Homo sapiens: one gene and its partner. The protein of the gene in region 1 interacts with the protein of each later gene in a biochemical or structural test. Each region holds a gene or a part of one and is shown on either strand. Other genes may lie near its edges. The genes, in order: CD5 and CD72.

What was found.
Region 2: the proteins of CD5 (region 1) and CD72 form a complex in vitro, tested with the Homo sapiens proteins (one study listed by BioGRID).

What each region holds. Positions count from the first base shown.
Region 1 is NC_000011.10:61,122,901-61,126,712, forward strand, and holds part of CD5 (T-cell surface glycoprotein CD5 isoform 1 precursor), read left to right. Parts: intron 1-6; coding exon 7-132; intron 133-983; coding exon 984-1,037; intron 1,038-2,131; coding exon 2,132-2,251; intron 2,252-2,850; coding exon 2,851-2,939; 3' UTR 2,940-2,941; intron 2,942-3,387; 3' UTR 3,388-3,812. UniProt on the Homo sapiens protein: Lymphoid-specific receptor expressed by all T-cells and in a subset of B-cells known as B1a cells. Plays a role in the regulation of TCR and BCR signaling, thymocyte selection, T-cell effector differentiation and immune tolerance.
Region 2 is NC_000009.12:35,609,448-35,612,725, reverse strand, and holds the end of CD72 (B-cell differentiation antigen CD72), read left to right. Parts: intron 1-806; coding exon 807-922; intron 923-1,972; coding exon 1,973-2,102; 3' UTR 2,103-2,124; intron 2,125-2,425; coding exon of another isoform or gene 2,426-2,576; 3' UTR 2,577-2,744; downstream 2,745-3,278. Other genes in the region: TESK1 (dual specificity testis-specific protein kinase 1), read right to left, coding at 2,984-3,278. UniProt on the Homo sapiens protein: Co-receptor of B cell receptor (BCR) that plays both positive and negative roles on B-cell functions. Recognizes the Sm/ribonucleoprotein (RNP) self-antigen ligand, and coligation of CD72 and BCR inhibits BCR signaling.

The DNA of each region.
Region 1 (3,812 bases):
CCCCAGGCCAGGATCCAAACCCCGCAGGCCTGGCCGCAGGCACGGTGGCAAGCATCATCCTGGCCCTGGTGCTCCTGGTGGTGCTGCTGGTCGTGTGCGGCCCCCTTGCCTACAAGAAGCTAGTGAAGAAATGTAGGTGTCACGGCCCTGAGTGGCTCCGTTCCCACGTGCAGAGACTGGAGGGGCTGCACTAGAGTCCTCCGGAGGAGGGGTCATGCCTCCAGAGAGCTGGGCACGCAGGACACCTCTGCTTCACCACCCAGCCTTCCCCTCTCCTGCCCATTAGCCATTTTCTGCCCCAAGTAACAGAAACACAAAGTAAACAAAATTGCAATTGCTGATTTGTCCATCTCTGGAGCCCAGCTGAGACCCACTCCAGGTCAGAGAGAAGGTGTGGCCATTCCCAAGGCTGTGGCAGGCCCAGAGGGTGTTCAGTACAGCCTCTGATGGTAGGAGACACACATCCCAGGCCTAGCCCCACCACTTACCACTGCCCAAGATGCTGATTGGGACACTTCCTCTCTCTGACCCTCAGTTTCTTCATCTACCAAATGGGCAATCGCACACCTTGTGAACGCGGGGGGTTGTTCTCCTTGCCTTGCAGAACTTAAGAGGAAATTATTCAGACAAAGAAGTGAGAGGGGAGAGATTGGGAACAGAGGGCCCAGCAGGACAGTGTTAGGTCCTAGTGCCTGCCCAGGTCTAGTTCTAAACGCCTGTGGTCTTTTCTCCTGGGGAGCCGGGCACCTCTACACCATCCTCGGCCTGCTCCTTCGGCACAGGATGGCTGCAATTCCCTTCCCGAGCAAGTTAGGAAACTGAGGCCTACGAGAGACTCCAGGGGGCAGAGCCCAGCAGCCCTGCCCTCAGCTGCACCTGCCGCCACCATCTCCCTCCCAGGCCCAGCCCCATCCCCACCCCTGCCTGCCCCCACCCATACCTGCCCCCACCACTCTGATGTGCCTTTCTTGTCTCTTGCCCAGTCCGCCAGAAGAAGCAGCGCCAGTGGATTGGCCCAACGGGAATGAACCAAAACAGTAAGTGTCCCCGGAGGCAGGAGCCTCCCTCAGGCCCTGGACAGAGGCCATGGAGGCAGAGTCGAGGCTCTCTGCTGACCACAGACGGAGCCTGTGGCTGCTTGAAGCCTCTGATCTCCACGGTGCTTGTCTGACATGTGACTGTGGCCAACAGACGTCCCCACACCAGGGAGGGCGGAGGCTTCTTGATGGGCTGATGGCTGAGCGGTTTCTACCGCTGAAGCCTCAGAGTGTAGAAACATCTCATGGTATCCTTTCTGTCCCTCGCCCCATCTCTAGGGTCCCCAGCAGCCCTCACCTCCTCCAGCAGTATTCCCCAACACAGTAGCCAGTGGATGTTAACAGGCAGCACTCACAAGAGGCCTCCCTGATCAACAGATCTGGAAAACCATGAGTTAGGCACAGCTAAGCATAGCTATTTCAGGACTTATCAGAACCTTAATGGGCATTTTTGTATTGCCCATCTCCAAAGCAAGGATCCATTAAGAAGGGCTGTCCAAGTTATTTTCATCATGGAACAACTTACAGGGCCAGTATTAGGACATTTTGGTGCAGCCAGCCCAACACCATCCCTGGTCTTCATCCTCCCTCCTTCCAGCCACAGTCAGAGACACCCTAATGGATGGAGACATGGCGCTCTTCCTGCCTCCCATTCTGCCTTCTTCCCCCTTCCCAAGTCCACAGCCAAATCCTTCAAGAGGGCTCTGTTGAATTTGTTATTAAGAAAGGCTCTGGAAACTTTCTTAATAACATACAGGCCCTCAGCTCCTGGAGGGCAGGGAGCAGATCTGTCCCGTCACCTGTGCTCCAGTCTCCTGCTTGGTAAATGCTTGATGACCGACTCACGGAAGGCCCCACCCTGCCAGTCAGATTGCTGGGTTACCCAAACCTGCTCTAAAAGTCTGCTGCTGATCCTGCTAGCATGAACCTCCCAGGAAGAAAGGAGAGGGGGATGCATTGAAGGGGCTGTGGGTGCCTTTGTCCTCTCCCCGCTAACATCATGGGAATAGGAGATTAAAGTTCTGGGCACCTGCTGGGGAAGGAGACGGAGGACACAGCCACAAGTCTGACACTGTCTCCTACCATCTGCCCAGTGTCTTTCCATCGCAACCACACGGCAACCGTCCGATCCCATGCTGAGAACCCCACAGCCTCCCACGTGGATAACGAATACAGCCAACCTCCCAGGAACTCCCACCTGTCAGCTTATCCAGGTAAGCACCAGCGGGTGCTCCCAGGCACGCAGGCAGGGCTGCAGCAGGCCGCCAAGGCAGGTCACGTGATGCCCTTGAAGGTCGGGTGATGGCCCAAAGACAGAATGGAGACCCCAGGGTGCAAGGGGATCAAACATCGCAGGATGCAGCAGGGGTACGGAAGGGATATAGCCTTTGCAGGCCCCAGCTGTCCCGTTTGAGACCACAAACTACTCATCTGGAGAGAAGAATGCACTCAGAAAGCCATCAACCCCAGCCTTGCTGTGACCTAATGGGCCTGTTTCCCTTCAGGGCCTTGAGGGGCCTGGATGGTAAATGAGGCCCCTTGGATTCCTCCGGGCTAGAAGAGAGCCATTAAGTGGGCTGCAGGAGCGCTGTACTAAAGGCTCCCAGACTGGCACTACCAATTAAGCCCCAGGGAGCCTGGAGTTCAGCATCATTAGTGAACGTTTGGCTGATTTGATCAAAACAGATAAGGGGTTGTCACCGGCTCATAAAGCCCCTGTGATCTTCCAACCCACTGTGGGCAGCGGCTCTAGGATCCAAGGGGCTCTGTGGAGTCAAAAACCCTCTGCAAACAGCGTCCTTTCTTTCCCCAGCTCTGGAAGGGGCTCTGCATCGCTCCTCCATGCAGCCTGACAACTCCTCCGACAGTGACTATGATCTGCATGGGGCTCAGAGGCTGTAAAGGTGAGCCCGTCTCCAGCCTGACCCCAGCACCCCAGGGTCCCCCACAGTCCTGGGGGTGAGCAGCAGCCACTCAATGCCTCCCCTCAGTCCCACCCTGCCCATACATGAATAGGGGACCCCCAGCATCTTGATTCTTGTAAAGGGAAAGACAAACGTCAGCTGTTTAGGTTATACGAGCTGATTTGACAATTAGAGCAGAGCAATCATGAACTTTAACAATCAACTCTTAAACTCCATTCGGAAGGCCACACAGGCAGAGTCCCTAAGAGCTCCGTGATGGAGTCACACCCCTCTAGAGCTGCCAACCTGCCAGCGGGCAGAAGGAGCCCCTGGCTCAGGACAGCAGCCGTCCCCAAGATGGAGCCCAGAGCATGGGTCCTGTCCCCGACCTCCCTGCATCACCTCTGCGGTGTCTTCCTCTAACACGTTTCCTTCTCACCCCACAGAACTGGGATCCATGAGCAAAAAGCCGAGAGCCAGACCTGTTTGTCCTGAGAAAACTGTCCGCTCTTCACTTGAAATCATGTCCCTATTTCTACCCCGGCCAGAACATGGACAGAGGCCAGAAGCCTTCCGGACAGGCGCTGCTGCCCCGAGTGGCAGGCCAGCTCACACTCTGCTGCACAACAGCTCGGCCGCCCCTCCACTTGTGGAAGCTGTGGTGGGCAGAGCCCCAAAACAAGCAGCCTTCCAACTAGAGACTCGGGGGTGTCTGAAGGGGGCCCCCTTTCCCTGCCCGCTGGGGAGCGGCGTCTCAGTGAAATCGGCTTTCTCCTCAGACTCTGTCCCTGGTAAGGAGTGACAAGGAAGCTCACAGCTGGGCGAGTGCATTTTGAATAGTTTTTTGTAAGTAGTGCTTTTCCTCCTTCCT
Region 2 (3,278 bases), on another chromosome or scaffold:
TGAGAATCATAATACTCTTGACCTCTGAGCTTGGAAACAACCTCTGCATCTTCTCAGCACAGTGGTCCAGGCAGCCCCTAGTAACTGATTAGAGTTGGCATGAGAATGGAAACTTAACCATATCTACATTTTTTTTTTTTTGAGACAGAGTCTCACTCTGTCACCCAGGCTGGAGTGCACTTGCATAATCTCAGCTCACTGCAACCTCCGCCTCCTGGGTTCATGCAATTCTCCCGTCTCAGCCTCCTGAGTAGCTGGGACTACAGTCACATGCCACCACGCCCAGCTAATTTTTGTATTTTTAATAGAGTCGGGGTTTCACCATATTGGTCAGGCTGGTCTCTAACTCCTGGCCTCAGGTGATCCACCTGCTTCAGTCTCCCAAAGTGCTGGGATTATAGGTGTGAACCACTGCGCCCGGCCTCTACTTTAATGTGTATCTCATCTCAGCTTGCTGGTCAGCTCCCTGGGCTGCTTGACAGGTTCCTGGACTCTTGTGGCCTCTCAGGCAGAGAGGTCCCACACCTGGTGGGCTGGATTGTAGGGATTAGTTCCTTGGGGCCAGAACAGCACACAGAATGACTCCCCTCCAAAGGCTGGCAGAGATTCTTACTCAGCTGGAAGGCAAATTTAGCAGTGAGCCTGCATCTGCAGGGTGGCACTTGATGGATTCAGGGACAAGTTACCAAAGAGCTGTCATATATACAGCCCCCTTGCCAAAGCTGAGGCCTCCCTAGGGTGTGCATTTTCTTCCATATTTCTCATCACTCTCCATGTATCTCTGGTCTCTCTGAATCTCCCCTCAGCACTCTTACTACTTCTTAAATTCACTGTTGCCAAATGGTGGTTCAGGGAATTCATATTGGACTGGCCTCAGCTCTAACAAGGATTGGAAGTTGACTGATGATACACAACGCACTAGGTAAGTTTGTTAGGACTTCTGGGTATTTTCAACTCCATAATCCCCTCCATAAAGACATGGTAATCAGATTTCCTTCCCACCTGGTCCCCTCAGGACTCTCCCATAAATCAACACTGTAATTGCCTATTTGTCTGTTTCCTCTATTTGATTAATAACTTCTTAGGGCAATCTTATTCTCCATTCTATTTCCACCTAGAAGTCCCTGGCACATACTTTTTTGTTTCAGTAACTACTAGGTTGGGACCTACGCTATCTTTTAGGGGGAGACATTAAGGATTTAGTTAAGGCTCCACAGCTGATGACAGCAGCGTTTCTCCATCCTTCGAGAAGGCCACCCAAACTGAGGTTGTACTTTCTCAGTAGCGGCCACTTGGGGCACTAGAGCTGCCTCAGTGAAGTACGCAAGGGAGCAGCGGGGGTACCATCGAAGCTCCACTTCACTGTGATCAAGACAGCAGTGGGGTACCATTGAGGATCAACCCTAGGGACCCTGAAACAGGGTGGCAACCTCCTTATGTTCCTCAATTGGCCTTCCCATCTTTTTTTTTTTTTTGAGATGGAGTCTCGCTCTGTCGCCCAGACTGGAGTGCAGTGGTGCAATCTCAGCTCACTGCAAGCTCCGCCTCAGGGGTTCACACCATTCTCCTGCCTCAGCCTCCCCAGCAGCTGGGACTACAGGCGCACACCGCCATGCCCGGCTAATTTTTTGTATTTTTAGTAGAGACGGGGTTTCACCGTGTTAGTCAGGATGGTCTCGATGTCCTGACCTTGTGATCCACCCGCCTTGGCCTCCCAAAGTGCTGGGATTGCAGGCATGAGCCACCGTGCCCAGCCTGGCCTTCCCATCTTTAAGATCTCGAGTTATTTTTCCCTCTGCTGGTTCTAAAGTCTGTTTTAGTTGAACTCCAGACATCTGTCCTGAACCATGCCCAGATGTGGCCTTAGGCAGGCAGGGTGAGTTAGGATTTAGGTTTTATACAGGGGAAGGGGAGAGAAGGGAGGGTGGGATATGTCCAGAGCATATCCCAGCTCTACCTTACTACTTTTTAGGACTTATGCTCAAAGCTCAAAATGTAACAAGGTACATAAAACTTGGTCATGGTGGACACTGGAGTCAGAGTCATGTAGAAGTTCTCTTCCCTACATCTGTGAGATGACAGCTTTCAGGTTTCCAGATTAGGACAGTCCTTTGCACTGAGTTGGTAAGAGTGAGGGATGGGGCTGAGGCATGGGGAGTCCAGGGGCAGAGGGACTCAGAGCAGGGACTCAGAGCAGGGGCCCAGGGGCCCGAGAGAAAACTTGTACCTGGGATGAAAGTTCCTCCACAGCCTCCAGTTGCTTGGTCTGCTTGTTAGGGTGGGGTGGGCAGGGAGGGACAGGTAAGGCCTACAACTTATGGGAGGCTGGTGGTGTGGCTGTCGAGAGCTGAGGAGGAGATGGGGTGAGTGGGATGAGGGTTCAGTTAAGTCAACCATGGAGCTCACTGATACTTTACTTTTCCAGACACTCATGCCAACAAGAACCTGTGCCCCTCCTTCCTAACCTGAGGCCTGGGGTTCCTCAGACCATCTCCTTCATTCTGGGCAGTGCCCAGCCACCGGCTGACCCACACCTGACACTTCCAGCCAGTCTGCTGCCTGCTCCCTCTTCCTGAAACTGGACTGTTCCTGGGAAAAGGGTGAAGCCACCTCTAGAAGGGACTTTGGCCTCCCCCCAAGAACTTCCCATGGTAGAATGGGGTGGGGGAGGAGGGCGCACGGGCTGAGCGGATAGGGGCGGCCCGGAGCCAGCCAGGCAGTTTTATTGAAATCTTTTTAAATAATTGCACGTGTTAGTCTCATGTGTCAGCAATGCTGTGTCTGGTTCAGTGATCCCCACGGGAACGCGAGCCGGGGGGTCGACTGGAAGTGCTCTGTCCCTTGAGTCCATGCTGGGGCTCCCCTACACGGGGAGAAGAGCCGGTCAGCCCATCTGGAACTGGCACTGTCCAGCAAGTGTGCTCTGTTCTTACAGGGTGTCCTGAAGGCCAAAGTTGGAGGCCTGAGACCACGGGCTCCACTGCTAAGAGCGTGCCCCAGGCAGCTGCAGGCTGGGTGTGGGTGGCTTGGCGTGGTGCCCTCGGTGGCAGAGGAGACTGCCCGCCTCACAGTTCAGGTTGCGGTAGCGGGCAACAGCTGGTGTGGGGCGGGGGCACATGGACAGGAAGCCAAAGCTGAAGGGGCCGAGGCAGCAGCCAGGACAGGGCAGCCCCTCATCGGGCTCCCGGGGAGCTGAAGGGGGTGGCGAGGGTTCTGTCCGCTCCAGGGCTGCCGCCCGGGGCAGGCTATGCTGGGCCCGGTTCCAGGGCTCCCCAGCC